Linked DNA regions of Homo sapiens. The protein of the gene in region 1 purifies or fractionates together with the protein of each later gene. This does not show direct contact. Each region holds a gene or a part of one and is shown in the gene's direction. Other genes may lie near its edges.

Evidence for each region. The genes of interacting proteins can lie anywhere in the genome.
Region 2: the proteins of MTMR1 (region 1) and SBF1 purify together in Homo sapiens (affinity purification with mass spectrometry; 4 studies listed by BioGRID and IntAct, with this or other methods). This does not show direct contact.

The regions. Positions count from the first base shown.
Region 1 is NC_000023.11:150,695,772-150,704,032, forward strand, and holds part of MTMR1 (phosphatidylinositol-3-phosphate phosphatase MTMR1), read left to right. Parts: intron 1-3,423; coding exon 3,424-3,529; intron 3,530-8,261. UniProt on the Homo sapiens protein: Lipid phosphatase that specifically dephosphorylates the D-3 position of phosphatidylinositol 3-phosphate, generating phosphatidylinositol. Could also dephosphorylate phosphatidylinositol 3,5-bisphosphate to produce phosphatidylinositol 5-phosphate.
Region 2 is NC_000022.11:50,443,870-50,451,035, reverse strand, and holds the end of SBF1 (myotubularin-related protein 5), read left to right. Parts: intron 1-2,385; coding exon 2,386-2,493; intron 2,494-2,591; coding exon 2,592-2,803; intron 2,804-3,426; coding exon 3,427-3,514; intron 3,515-3,582; coding exon 3,583-3,714; intron 3,715-3,795; coding exon 3,796-3,894; 3' UTR 3,895-6,036; downstream 6,037-7,166. Other genes in the region: PPP6R2 (serine/threonine-protein phosphatase 6 regulatory subunit 2), read right to left, coding at 6,789-6,837, 6,919-7,166. UniProt on the Homo sapiens protein: Acts as an adapter for the phosphatase MTMR2 to regulate MTMR2 catalytic activity and subcellular location. Promotes the exchange of GDP to GTP, converting inactive GDP-bound Rab proteins into their active GTP-bound form.

The DNA.
Region 1 (8,261 bases):
TGGGCTTATAGATGAGGCTTAAATTCATGAGGCAGGTGGAGTTCACAGAAGAATGATGGAGGTCTGGAAAAGGGAATTGGGCTAGGAATAGGGCTGGGTGGATTTTCAAGATGCTTACCAGGTAAGAGTGACCCGACATGGTGAGCATTCAGATGTGAGGGGGGAGTGCCGGGTGGACTCCAAGGCAAACCTCAGCTTTCTAGCGTGTGGGGGCCGGATAACTGGCTGTGCTGCGCCCTGAGTTAGGAAACACAGGAGCAGAGTAGGTTGCGGGGCTGAGCGGCTGATGCTGGTTTAGACAGGTTGAATTGGCAGGGTCTCTGGGCCAGACTAGTGGACAGGTCTTGTAGGAACATCAGCATTGAGATCAGGAGAGTCCAGGTTGGAGAAACAGAGCTGGGAGCCTCCAGCCTGTAAGTAGTTATTGACACCAGGAGTATAGAGGGCAATTGCACAGACTACAGAGAAGGGATGGGGGAGGAATCATGGCCTCCTTTCTCAGTTCTGTCAGCTCAACAAGCTCAGATTCACACTTTTCTTTGAAGAGTGACCTCTAGAATGGAACCTGGCTCTATGGGTGGGACTTGGCCATGTCCCTGGGACTATGGGGCCTTCACTTCTCTTCTGAATACTGTAATTAATAATGAGGAAGCTGTGGTCCTGTAAGAGGATGTGTCTTGCCAAAGATCATGGAGTTAGCTGGTGACAGAAGCAGGACTCATGTCCAGGCCTCCTGTCTGCTAACCCACTGTGCTTCACTGTGTGTAACTACATTGGCCAGGATGCTTCTGGTTGCAGGTGACAGAAACCACAGTTCAATCTAGCTTAAGGCAAATGAGATGCCCTGGCTCACAGAACTGCTCCAGACAGGAGGAGAGATGGCCACAGGCACAGTTGAGGTCAGGATTGCAAACAGTGTTGTCGGGACTCCCCATCTCTCTCTCCCTCTCTCTTTTATTTTCCCTCACTTTTTAATCGCTGTGAGTTCCTTAAGATGGTAGGGGTGGGGTGGGGTGGGGAGTGGCCTCCAGCAGCTCTGGATACAGATCCATGTATTTCAGGATCCAAGGGGAAAAGTCTGGGATTGGCTGGTCCTAGGTAACTCACCTACAAGTGGGAGCAGGTGGAGGAAGGGGTCAACCTTCTTCTCCGCTTTCCCCCACAGAAGCCTGTGTTGTGGGGAAGGGCAGTTCCCAAAGTAAAGAGGAAGGTCTTTATCAGAAGAAGGGGGAAGGCATGCCGGGCAGGCAGGTGGTAATAGCAGGTCACACTCATGCTCAGCAGTTGGGTTTCTGCAGTTTCTTCCTGTATTTGCAACTGGTGGGTGCTGACAGAAAAAGGCATTATGACAAGAAAAGTATGATATACGTGGGAATGAAAGTGACTTAACCTTTAAAAAGGAAACAAATCTCTCCCTTTTCTCTCCTTCTCCCCCTCAGGTCGAAATTGTGGTATATAGATTCCTGGCATGTGATAGGAATTTCTGCTCATTCAGTATTTTCAACCATACAGATAACCTCTGGTCTGTTTTGATCAGAGACTGCAATTTGGATCACTAGCACAGAACTTCAGTTTTCTTTCTTTTACTATTTGGGTCATTTTCCATATTGCCTGGGGATTCCAGGTGTTTCTGTCCTTCAGATATGTGAGTGTGGGTTTAATTAGTGATATGATTTTTTTTTTAAAGGCCTGAAACATTCTTTACAGTGAAAGCTACCTGCAAGGTAAACTTTTGTCGGTGTTTTTAGCCCTCTAGCTTGATTTCTTAGTGTTTTGCCAAATTGTGAGAGGAACCCGGCCTCTGGGGGCAATTGTTAAATCTCTTACTGCGCTAGTTGGCTTATGTGGTCTTTCAGGTCAGGTGAGTACAGCCTGACCACTTGCCAGTCGTGTGACCTTGGGCAAAACTGGACCTTAATTTTTTCATCTGTAAAATGGGTCACTGTGAGGCTGGGCAAGGCTACGTGTGTGAAAATGCTTTGATGCCTCAGAGCTCTGTGGGAGTGAAAGATGACATTTTCTTTGCATTGCTGTGTTTTCATGTAAAGCGGTTGGCTCGCATCTGTGCTGCTGGCTTCAGTGCAGTGAGTCAGTCGCTATTGGTTGTTCCATGTCCTGTTGAGGACAGCCACTTTCTCACAGGGCATGTCACCTCTGTGCCTCGATTTTCTCTCCTCAAAGACAAGTCGGCTAGTCCCTGTTCTGCCTTCTCATCACACCATGGTTGTGAGGCTCTGATATAATAAAAACCATTTGTGCTTGTAATCCCAGCACTTTGGGAGGCCAAGGCGGGTGGATCACCTGAGGTCAGGAGTTCAAGACCAGCCTGGCCAACATGGTGAAAACCCGTCTCTACTAAAAATACAAAAATTAGCCAGGCATGGTGGCATGCGCCTAAATAATCCTAGCTACTAGGGAGGCTGAGGCAGGAGAATTGCTTGAACCCAGAAGGGCAAAGTTTGCAGTGAGCCGAGATCGCGCCACTGCACTCCAGCCTGGGTGACAGAGCAAGACTCTGTCTCAAAAAAAAAAATAAATAAAAAATAAAAACCATTTGTAAGTTGTCAAAGCACTTATAGAAGTGTAAGGTATTGTTAGTACTACACAGAGAACATCATTTTTCTAGGCTGTAATTTATAAATCTCATGTTCAGCTTTACTTTTCTGAGTCACTTTGCTTCACTCAAAAGTACACTATTTTCTAGATTTAAAACTACCAACATGAAATTGATTGAATGTTTGAAAAGCCTATGCTGTAAGATAAATATTTCACATATTTCTCCCGGCTGGGTGTGGTGGCTCATGCCTGTAATCCTAGCACTTTGGGAGGCTAAGGCGGGTGGGTCACTCGAGCCCAGGAATTCGAGACTAGCCTGGGAAACATGGCAAAACCCTGTCTACACGCGCGCGCACACACACACACACACACACACACACACACACACACACACACACAAAAGCCGGGCCTGGTGGCATGTGCCTGTAGTCCCAGCTACATAGGAGGCTGAGGTGGGAGGATCACTTGAACCTGGGAGGTTGCAGTGAGCTGAGATTGCACCACTGCACTCCAGCCTGGGTGACAGAGTGAGACCCCATCTCACAAAAAAAAAAAGAAGTATTTCTTCCATATAATTTTAATAGAGTAAAATTCCATTAAATGGTAGAGAATAGTAAGCTTAACTAACACCTAGAATCTTCAACTTTGTTTGAGAAAATTGGGTGATTCATTTAAAATTAACCTGGAATCTAATCTTATTTCCTAGTTGTCAGTCGCTATTTCAGTTCTTACATAAAATGTGAAGGTAACCAAAGAGTCTAGTTAGTTCATCTAAAAAAAGAAGTGTTATCATATTCCTATTCAGTGCTAATTTTTTCACTGAGATCCTATGATATAACGTTTTGTAATCCATGCTATTTTTTTTAGTCCCACAGGATCACATGTTGAATGGTGTAAACAGCTTATAGCTGCTACAATTTCTAGTCAGATTTCAGGTTCAGTGACATCAGAAAATGTGTCCAGAGATTACAAGGTAAGCAACATTGAGTGTTTAATTCATTTTCAGTATGCTAAGTAGCCAAGAAGCTTTGCAGTTTTAATTCAAGTGAGCTGTTGGCCTTTTGATGCAACATGGCCATTTGCTCGAGAATAAGGATGAAAGGTTCTCTGTTGTTAGATCTGAAATGTAGAAGAGAAATTTTACCAGTATCCAGTACATGTAGTCATAGTTTTGTAATTGAAAGGAGAAGCTGTCTTTAGATGACAATGATTCTTTTAAAAATCAAGTTCCATTTTATAATAATAAATGCATATAGCTTCTTTGTTAGTATTGTGAGTTTCAGGAAATATCTTGATGTACAATACTTCCCTAACTTCACAATTTTTTAATTTATGTATTATCTGTGAGTATTCAGCATTAACATGTGATACTAGAATGTATAAAAACCCTTCCAGAATCTCAAAAGAGTATTGTATGGGCAGCCTCATTTTTCAGTCCTTACTGAAGTGAAAATCTCTTTTTGTTCATTTTAAAAGTTAGATTCCCTGCTTATTCTAAATTTAAGTGATAAGCTCCTTGTCAGCAGAGACTAGGGCAGTTTTACCACTGGCTTCCCAGGCACAATCCTGGAGCATAACAGTTGCTCAATAAATATTGAATCAATTAACAAATCAAAAAAATCGCTTGTTCCATCTTTGTTAAGGCTAAAGACTAACTTTGTTTTAATGTCAATAAACTATTAATAGGTATATTAAATGAAATCACATTTATATTTCAGTACTGATGTTTGCCTAAGTTGAGGTTTCTGTTTATTAGTGGTCATTTTTCCTGCTAGTAAGAGATGATTGATTTTTCACAAGTGTGTGTAAAATGCATTTGGTATCCCAGACTACCATTAGTTAATAGTCTCTCAATATCATGGTCCTTGCCAGACATCAAATCTTACAAATATCAAGAATTACAGTAAAGATCCTAATTAATTCTTAATAGGTACTCCTTGTTTAGGAGCTTTATCTTCAGTTCCTCTTTAGAGCTCATAGGGTAATAACAAGTGCAGAAACAGGCTCAGGAGGCCAATTAATTGAGATTTGGCTATGGTGCTGTCTCTTGCCTCATCCAAACTGGCAGATGCTGTTGATTATGCCTACCAAAGGAAGGCATAGCTGTGGATTAGCAGAAATTGGATAATCTGCCCAGCTAGAAGAGTGACAGTGTATTTCTTAATCATTTTTCCTGCTATGTGGTGTTCATGTTTGCCCATAAAAGAGCAGCTGGGGCTCCTGGACCTTAAAACCTGGTCGGGCAAACACACTGTCTCCAGGTGGGAGAAGCATTTGCTGCATCACTGATGCGTGAATGGCTGGTCACTGAGCAGCTGCGGATCGCATCAGTTCCAGTTGCCCTATTGCCTGCACCTTAGCTGAGAAACTGCCCGCTGAGTAGAGAGACTTAAGAACCCATTTTAGCAGAGAATAGCTCTCACACTTCGGGGTGATTTTCTTTATGGACAATTATGAGTTAACTGTAATGTTTTCATTAAGGTTGAATAGTTGTTAGTGTTGTGTGTGTCCTATAAAAGATTGAATGTCGACTGTGTGCATAGCTTTCTAACATTGCATGAATAGATCAGACTGAATCTGTACTTTAACATGAAGCAACTAAGTTTTTTCAATCTCAGTCTATTTACAAATTTTGTGTAGCTGAATTAGCTCATGTTGGAATGGTTGAACAGATGGTATTCAGAAAAAATAAGGCTTTCTTTCTTTTGGAAATTAAATTTTAAGTTCCTACATCAGATCATAGCTAAAGTCTTTGATGAATTATTGTAAGGGGGCATGTTTTATAATTGTCTTTGTTATATTTGCCCTGCAGCCAAATCTGAAAAGTTGGTGTTAAATTTATAACTCAGGGGTTGTTACACTTTCTTCAAGGAGAGTTTTTTTTTTTACATAATAAATACATAAAATATTTCTAAACCACAAGGATAATTGTACATGTTCCCTATAAAGTAGTTCTTAAAATCAGGGTAACCAAAATGGGCCTTTGGGACCCCTCTGGCATGGGAGCTATTGCATGGGGTTGACCCTGAAGAGCCAGATAAAGTTCCTTGAGGATTTAAGTTGCAGTCATCAGCTGATATTTGAAATTATCTGTTGTGTAAATGTCTTATTTGAAATACACACTTAATTTGGGGGCTAATTTATTATAGATTAAACTCAACATCAGTAATTAAATGGGAGCAGATGTTTATGTGGAGCAGAATGCTTGGCATCTTATTTGAAATGCTGATTGTCTTCTGAGTTGTAACAGGCTGTCGAGAATGGTTCTATGTCATCATCATCATCATCATCATCAACCCTCTAACACATACAGGCTCTGGGGTTTTGTAATGCTTTTTGACATGTCATCCATTTAAGCCTTAAAACAACCTAGTGAATCTGGGTGTGGTGGTCTGTAGTCTCAGCTACTTGGAAGGCTAAGATGGGAGGATCACTTGAGTCCAGGAGTTCAAGGCTGCAGTGTGCTGTGGTCACACTTGTGAAAAGCCAATGCACTCTAGCCTAGACAACATAGAGAGATCTTGCTTCTTTAAAAAAGTCCATTGAGGTAGCTATTACTACAATCATCATTTAATGGATGAGGAAACCGAGGCCTAGAGAGATGAAATGACTTGCTTAGGGTCATACAGTTAGACTTGGGATTTGAACTCAAGTCATCCTATTGAAAAGCTAGAGTGATTTTAAGATTTTGTCCCACCCCCATTCCCATCCACTGCTTTTCGATCTTTTTTTTTCTTCTTTTTCTTCTTCTTCTTTCTTTCTTTTTTTTTTTTTTATAGAGATGGGGTCTTACTACGTTTCCCAGGCTGGTCTTGAACTCCTGGGCTCGAGCGATCCTCCCATCTCGGCCTCCCAAAATGCTGGGATTAGAGGTGTGAGCCACCATACCCAGCCTCATCCACTGTTTTTCAAAATGTGACCCTTGGGTCTTCCCAAGACAGCATTCTCTGGAGCACCTGTAAAAATGCAGCTTCCCGGGCTCCATCCCAGATTTACTGAATCAGAGTGTCTGAGGGAGGGAAACAAGTGTCTCATATATTTCTTATGCATGATAAAATCTGAAAACCTAGGCTTCCTGAGTTTCTGTCTGTTGAAATTGGTGATGGGACCCTGCATTTCTGGTATATTACTAAGAATCTGAATAATTAGCAACTCAGATATTGGAGAATAATTATTTTATTATTTACTCATATCATAAATTGTCAGTCAGCCCAGGGTCAGCTCATCTAAAGTACAGTAAGAATATCGCTGGTATCACGTGACATGAGTTTAGATGGTATGTCCATGGACGTATTTTAGTAGCTATGTAATTATTTTCTTGTGTATTAGAAAAATCAGCACATCAGGCTTGTGATTTAGTAGATGTTATGGCTTAGAGCAGGCAAAGTATTAAAAAGGAATGGATTTTAAATCAATATAAAGATAAATACAAAATTAGTATGGGCAGTTGGCAGATACAGCAAGCCAAACTTGTTGAGGTGGTATGTGAAATGGCAAGTTTGGCAAGCATTGTCCCAGCTGAAAGAGTAGATAGCTATTATACTGAATTGTGTGGCAGCTAAATTAATAAATGCCTGATTTAATACCGAGTCATCCTGAAGATTGGCCTGTTAATTAAGACTATTACACAAAATGTAATAAAATATTTGTTTTGCTTGTCCCCCCTCCACTACCAACTCAATTGCTTTCATTTTTACTAGGCTAACAAATGGTAAAAAATTTCTCTTGAATTTGCCAGAAATTTTAAGAACAAAATTTGAATGTAATCTTCTGTAGATTAGATGAAATAATACAGTTACAAATGGAAACATTTTTAGGAACTATTAGTAGAAGTGACATCATTGATCACAGCTTCCATTGTTTGGAAAGTAGGACTAGGTTATGAAAAGAGAACATGATGGAGTAGTACAAACAATATTGGTTAGCTTGTGACCTTGTATAGTCTCTGAGGCTCAGTTTCCTTTTCTGGAAGGATAAAGGGGCTTGGATTAGATTATTCACCTCTAAATGCCTTTCTTGCTAGAACATTATTCAATTGTGTTCAAAAGAATTTGATCTGGGCCAGCTTTATGAAAATTAGGACACTATAGTTTTAATGTGATCATCTTCCTTCCTCTTGCTTCATCATTATCATCAGCTCTTCTCTGTTCTCCTTCCCTCACCCACACACACACAGTAGCTATATCTCTTCTCTAAACATTCTGAAGAAAAATGAGAAAATGGAGATGGCCTTATACTAAGTTTAATCATTGGATGGGATAGTACAGTAATTACATTTGGAGGGAAGTCGAAGGCAGAGTATAGGAAAGACTTCATTATGCTTGAGCTGGGTCTTGGTTAACATTTCTTAAATTGGGCCCTAGTCTATGAAAAGGGAAGCTTTAGCATGAACCTTCAAAATCTACTTCTGTAATCTATAGCCTGGCCTTGTGACTTATAAATCAGAGCTTGCAAACTCAGATGCCTTCATGGAACAGTTCACAAATCTAGGCAGACATGGAAGAGTGCTGTAGAGAACTGGAGAGTACAGAATGCCCACCTAACAGCAATTAAATTTTTTTAAAAACCATAGGCCTCCAGTTTTGTAACCACTGTAATAGATAGAAGAGTGCTATCCTATCATGGTTTTTGTGGGAAATAATTATTTCTTAAAAATGTTAAGATTTAGACTTCTGTTTCTGGAAAAAATGGAGCAAATGTATTTT
Region 2 (7,166 bases), on another chromosome or scaffold:
TTTAACGCTTTTTATTGTAGAGATTCCCCATCTGATAAACCATTATGTCCATCTTTTCTTTTAAATCTTGAAACATAACTTAAAAATATATATAAAGATGGGGTCTTGCCATGTTGCCCAAGCTGTTCTCACACTCCTTGGGTCAAGCGATTCTCCCTCCTCGGCCTCCCGAAGTGCTGGGCTTACAGGCGGGAGCCACTGTGCCCTGCCTGTGTTGTCTTTCTTTAAGCTTAGAGTCTTGGGTTTTATTCTCGCAGGTAGGTAATGAGCTTGTGCGTCAGCTTGGTCTGTTTGAAGCTTGTTTCTAAGCTTTGTTTGGGCAGCTCTCCAGCACCTCTAGAGAAGCTCCAGGGATAGAGCAGCCCAAGGCGTGTGGCCTCTCCAGGGCTTCAGTTGGAGTTTTGTGTCTTTGTGTCTTCGGTAAGGTCTTGCCACACTGGCTTTTTGGAAGTCCAGTATCTTTTAGCATTCCTCTAGAATTTGGGTTCAGCTCATAGTTTTGTTTTTTTTTTTTTGAGGCAGAGTCTCACTTTGTCTCCCAGGCTGGAGTGCAGTGGCGCACTCTCGGCTCACTGCAGCCTCCACTTCCCATGTTCAAGCAATTCTCCTGCCTCAGCCTCCCGAGTAGCTGGGATTACAGGTGCCCGCCACCATGCCCAGCTAATTTTTGTATTTTTAGTAGAGACAGGGTTTTGCCATGTTTACCAGGCTGGTCTTGAACTCCTGACCTCAGGTTATCCACCCGCATTGGCCTCCCAAAGTGCTGGGATTACAGGTGTGAGCCACTGCTGCCGGCGTCAGGTCATAGCTTCTTAGTAGCTGTTCTCTGCCAGGCCTTGTGACATCTTGCTTTGCACATGGCAGCCTAATTTGGCCAACGACTCAAGGAGGGCTCTGTCTAGATTTCTAGAGCCCCTTTGCTGTGGTGCTCCCTCCCCTCTGTGGGCTGCCCTGCAGACCCAGCTGCACTAGCGCCCCTGGACGTCCCGTCTCTGCCTCCTCGGCTCAGCAAGCTCCCGTGTGTTGCTCTGGCCCTGCCTCCCTGCACTGTGGCTGGGCAGAAAACAGGTGACTGTGGGGCCCATCTTATGTGGTCCCATGTCTTAGGCTCCTGTCTCTCAAGCTGCACTGCTTGTCTGACATCTGGAAACAACGGCTTCCCCTTCTTGTCCAGTTTCATCATTTGCATATGGAGGGAGGGCTGTTCAGACTAATTATCTGTCATGGCTGGAAGTTGACAGTTGGCCTCGTGTTTCTCTTTTGAAGTCAGCCGTCAGTTTTATTGTTGCTCTTTCAAAGAGAGCATGTCTTTTTTTCTTCTGGCAGGTTTTGGGACTTTTCTCTTTGTTTTTCAGCAGTTTTTCTGTCCCATTTTGGGGTGTGTGTGTGTGTGTGTGTGTGTGTGTGTGTTTGTGTGTTTTGAGACAGAATCTCACTTTGCCGCCCAGGCTGGAGGGCAGTGGTGTGATCTCGGCTCACTGCAACTTCCGCCCCCTGAGTTTAAGTGATTCTCCTGCCTCAGCTTCCTGAGTAGTTGGGATTACTGGTGCCTGCCACTGCGTCCGGCTAATTTTTGTATTTTTAGTAGAGTTGGGGTTTCACCATCTTGGCCAGGCTGGTCTTGAACTCCTGACCTCGTGATCCACCCGCCTCGGCCACCCAAAGTGCTGGGATTACAGGCGTGAGCCACCGCGCCTGGCCCTAAAATCACTCTCTTGAATTTACTGTATGTTCTAACTCCTGTTTCATTTCAGGGTCTATTTTAATGTTTTTCTCCATTTTTCTGCTGTTCTTTTATTGTAAGCTGGACATTGTGGACCCTGCAGTGTTGAAGATCAGTATTGTGTGGTCTTTTTTTTTTTTGAGAAGCAGTTTTGCTCTTGTTGCCCATGCTGGTGTGCAGTGGCGCGTTCTCGGCTCACCGCAACCTCCGCCTCCCAGGTTCAAGCGATTCTCCTACAGGCGTGCGCCACCATGCTGGGCTAACTTTTTGTATTTTTAGTAGAGATGCGGTTTCTCCATGTTTGTCAGGCTGGTCTCAAACTCCTGACCTCAGGTGATCGGCCTCCCAAAGTGCTGGGATTACAGGCGTGAGCCACCACGCCTGGCCGGGGTGTGTGTTTTTAACTTACCCTGTTGGGGTCTGTAGTGCTTCTTGATTATGTTGTTTGATGCCTCTGGTTAGTTTGGGAAATTTTTCAACTGTTGTCTCCGAATATTCATTTTGCATATTCCTTCCCTCCCTCTTGCCACCTCCCCCTGTGGCCAGTCACACACGCGTTAGGCCTTTCCGTTGTGTCTCTTTCCTGTGTTTTCCTTTTGTCTTTTCGTGCTCTAGTCTGGATATTTCCTTTTGAATAAACTTGCCATTAATTCTTCCCCCAGGAGCTGCAGAGGCTGGAGACAGAGTTGGGCCAACCCGCTGAGCGCTGGAAGGACACCTGGGACCGGGTGAAGGCTGCACAGCGCCTCGAGGGCCGGCCAGACGGCCGTGTGAGTGAGGGCCAGTGTGAGCGTCCACGGTGGGCGTGTTGCTGGGAGAAAGTGGAGTCTGTCCAGCCCTGACCCAAGTCCCAACCTCCTGTTCCCAGGGCACCCCTAGCTCCCTCCTTGTGTCCACCGCACCCCACCACCGTCGCTCGCTGGGTGTGTACCTGCAGGAGGGGCCCGTGGGCTCCACCCTGAGCCTCAGCCTGGACAGCGACCAGAGTAGTGGCTCAACCACATCCGGCTCCCGTCAGGCTGCCCGCCGCAGCACCAGCACCCTGTACAGCCAGTTCCAGACAGCAGAGAGTGAGAACAGGTATGAGGGCACCTCCCACTGCCACATGGACACCTCTGAGCTGGTGTTCTGGGGTCCCAGGCAGTCCTCTGGTGGGAGATTGCGGGTGCTTTTGAGGAGCTTGCTTAAGTATACACCACCACTGGGAGGGGTTTGGGGTGTCGAACTGGTGACCACAGCTGACCACAGCCTGCAGTGGCTGAGGGAGGAGTAGAGAGAGGGCAGTGGTGGGGCCCCCGTGAGTCTGGAGTCTGGCAGGATCCATCCCAGGCAGCTGCTGCCGTGGCTGCTTCTACAGATCTACCTGCCTGGCCATCCCTCTCCTCGTAAGGGCGCCTGCCCTGTGTAGGGGGCTGCTTTCCCAAGACCCTGAGGCTCTGGTGTGGGGATGCTCCCTGGAGTCTGGAGGGTGTGAGGCGCCCTTCACTGTCTCCTTTCTGGGCGTCGTCTTCTTGGGCCTGCAGCCCCCCATCAAAGGCTTCTTTGTGGCCCCCTGGCCAGTGCTCTGGGCTTAGGTCAGTTCTGGGGACAGGGTGCCTGGTCTTACCTCCTGGGCTGGGACAGCAAGGGGGGGACGACTGCTGGGGCCTGGGCTTGGCTGGGCCATGACGGTCAGCCTGGCCCTGGTTCTGCTGGAAATGCAGGTCCTACGAGGGCACTCTGTACAAGAAGGGGGCCTTCATGAAGCCTTGGAAGGCCCGCTGGTTCGTGCTGGACAAGACCAAGCACCAGGTGAGTGATCAGGTGGTGGGGGGGACTCACGGGGGAGGGGGCTCCGCTGACTCTGTGGCCTCCTCCAGCTGCGCTACTACGACCACCGTGTGGACACAGAGTGCAAGGGTGTCATCGACTTGGCGGAGGTGGAGGCTGTGGCACCTGGCACGCCCACTATGGGTGCCCCTAAGACTGTGGACGAGAAGGCCTTCTTTGACGTGAGCCTTGGCCGGGGCTTGGGAGAGGGGAGGGGCTCTGCGGTGTGGGGGCTGCGGAGTCAGTAACCCGCCCTTCCCCAGGTGAAGACAACGCGTCGCGTTTACAACTTCTGTGCCCAGGACGTGCCCTCGGCCCAGCAGTGGGTGGACCGGATCCAGAGCTGCCTGTCGGACGCCTGAGCCTCCCAGCCCTGCCCGGCTGCTCTGCTTCCGGTCGTTACCGACCACTAGGGGTGGGCAGGGCCGCCCCGGCCATGTTTACAGCCCCGGCCCTCGACAGTATTGAGGCCCCGAGCCCCCAGCACTTGTGTGTACAGCCCCCGTCCCCGCCCCGCCCCGCCCGGCCGGCCCTAACTTATTTTGGCGTCACAGCTGAGCACCGTGCCGGGAGGTGGCCAAGGTACAGCCCGCAATGGGCCTGTAAATAGTCCGGCCCCGTCAGCGTGTGCTGGTCCAGCCAGCGGCTGCAGGCGAGTTTCTAGAACCAGAGTCTATATAAAGAGAGAACTAACGCCACGCTCCTGTGCCTGCCTTCCCCACTCCCCGGCTGCCTGCTCTCGGCCTACCCAGAGGGTCCCATCTGCCCCTATCCAGGCCCACCTGGCGGGAGGTTGGCATCTTTCTCGTGAGCCTCTCCTGGTGCCTGGGTCCACCCAGCTCGGCCTGCATGTCCCTGGGAGTGACTTTGCTCTGGGGGCGGATCGAGCAGGAGGCTTCACTGGGGACTTGCTTGATTCCCTCCACGCCTCAGGGCTGGTCTAGGGGCCGGCACGGCTGGAGAGGAAGCCCCCATCCCTACCCAGGGGATGCAGAAGCTGACCTCACAGAGGCTTGGGGGTGAAAGGGTGGGTGGTCATTTGACCCCAGAAGGCTGTTGCAGGTCCAGAGGACACTTGAGGTGGACGTCAGTTTCTGGCTAGACCCGAGCTGAAGGGATGGAGGCCGGAGGCGGGGGGGGGGGGGGGACAGTGGGCTCCCAGGGGAATGCAGGTTGACCACATCTGGCTCCTGCCAGGCAACGAGCAGCATCTGGCAGAGTAAGGGGCCAACGCCCATGGGGGATGGACCCTCTCAGTTCTTGGGAATTCTGCCCCAAAAGTCCTTTCCCTGGGGTCTCAGAGGGCCCCCGTCCTTCCCTTCTTGGTGTCACTGTGGCCCCTCACTGCTCTTTTCCTATTCAAACCTGAGTCCCACCAGGCCCAGGGCTTCACCTGCTGAGCTGTTGTGTCCTTGCCTGTGACGAGGCCTGGCCAGGGGTGCAGGAGCAGAAGGTGGGGAGGGTTATAGACGCTGCAAAGGCCAAGAGAACATCTGAGAGTGGCAGCTGGTGACCTGGCCAGAGGGGCTGGTGAGGGGCAGAGAACCTGGCTAGAGGCTGGGTCCCTCAGGTGGTCCTCTCAGGTGGGAGGCGAGCAGCAGGTGTGGGTGAGGGGAAGGTTCTGATGACAGCTGCAGAGGCAGGGCCCAGTGCTGGCAGGTGGGGGGCCAAGACCCTCCCCTGGTGGGACGTTGAAGCCAAGGATGGCCTTGGACCCTGTCAGGCCCAGCATGGTCCCGCCACCTCCCCCACCCCACAGGTGGTGTTGGGACACCTGGGCGAGATGTGAGGGTGGGCTCACTTGAGCCACTGAAACCAGCCAGGTCTTCCCTCAGGCCGGACAGATGGCGCCTGACCGAAGTTCCTGGCACCTGGAAAACCCACAGGTCAGAGTAAGGGGAGAAAGGACCCTGCCCTCCCTGTTCCACGTCTGTGGGGGGAGAGGACAAATGCCAGGCACAGGGTAGGCGGCGAGAACAAGGCACTCAATGTGTAGCTGGGGCAGAGACTCGGCCTCTGGGGAGCTGAGCGGGTTCCCTCCACCCCCAACCGTGGTGGAAAGACAAGCTCGCTGGGGCGGGGTGGGGGTCTGGTCTCCACCTGCCCCTCCCACTCAGCCACTGAGGACAAGGTGGGGCCCAGGCTTCTGGGAGGGGGAGCTGGCACAAAAGGAAGTCCTGGGGTTGATGTGTTTGAGCGTTAGGCGAAGTGGTTCCCCCCATCCCCCAAACGGAAAAATGTCAGTATTTGCTAAGCTGTAGAGACCTGATGCCGTGATGTGGCCTGTTCCGCCTCCACCCATTACACGGGGATAACGCTGGGGGGTGGCGGGCCCACAAAAGAGGTGCTGGAGGAGACTCTCCCACCCCTGGCCGGGCCGGGGCTTTGGGGCCGGAAGGTTCACAGTACGCGGTTTGTCCGAACGTCACGGCTTTTATTGGGAGTTGGGGGTTTGGGGTGCCCTGTCAGGTGATCAGAACATTAAAAATGGACTCAACGTAAAATAATCTTCTGGACCCTTCTAGGACGACATGGCCGTGACCGGTAGTGCTAGAAACCAGTCTTCGAGCCCCTAGTGCCACACCATGTCCCCCCACCTGCATACCTGTGGTCTCCCCCTGCCAGGCACCCTGTGCTGGGCACAGGGACATCCCTGCCAGGCCTAGAGGGCCTTGTGTTTTTAAGGCAGTCAAATCTTGCAGCCTGGTTCAGTGCCAGCTCCAAGGGCTATTGGGTAGCTGCAAGGGTCAATTATGCATTCCTGTGAGTCAGGTTTTTCCAACCCAGGCCCTTGACTCTGCCCTGAGCTTGCAGCTGGATACAAAGTGCAAAAAAGCTTGGCTCCTTCTGTATTCTTTAAAAACAAAACAACAACAAAAAAAAAACTGTAAAAACAGCCTCCATGTCCACGCCCTTCCTGGCCCATCAGGTCCTGGTGGCATCTCAGGGTCCTGCCCCCCCCACCCCCACCCCCACCCCGGCTCCTGCAGGCCGACCTTATTGCTGTGCTCTGGGCTTGGGGGCGGCTGAGGTGCCCCTCTGTCCTCCAGCAGGGCACGAGTGACCTGAGAGGCCCACTCAGGCAGAAGAGACGCAAGCTGGGCCGTCCAACTGGTTTCAACTGCCAGCTTTACCAATGCAGCATTTATTTTAAAATTAAATTAAATTAAAAAAAAAAAAGATTGCATCACCAGGTAGTTTTCTCGATTAAGGAGGCAGCCTGACCAGGGTGGGCCGTGGCCGGGCGGCAGCAGCATCACACTGGGCCATTTAAGGCAGCTCCTTCTGGCGGGGCATCTGTCTTCCTGCAGGAATGGGGTGGGGTTGGAACCGTGCGGGCTGCGGGCCCTGTCCACACCCCCTACCCCCACACTCAACCTGCTCACCCGTCCTTTGTCACTGTCCCCAGGGTGGCCACCATGGCTGGGGCTGCTGTGACTGCCATGATGGGCCCTAGGGGGACCGCCACGGCCAGTGCAGAAGAGACTGCTGGGGTGGGTATGGCGGGGCCAGCCTTGCTCAGTGCTGTGGTGATGGCCACAGTAGCCTCGGGGGGCACAGCCACGGCTGGGGCAGCAGTCACTTCCTTTGGCGCGGGGCAGGCAGGGCTTAACAGCCGGCTGTCAGCACACCC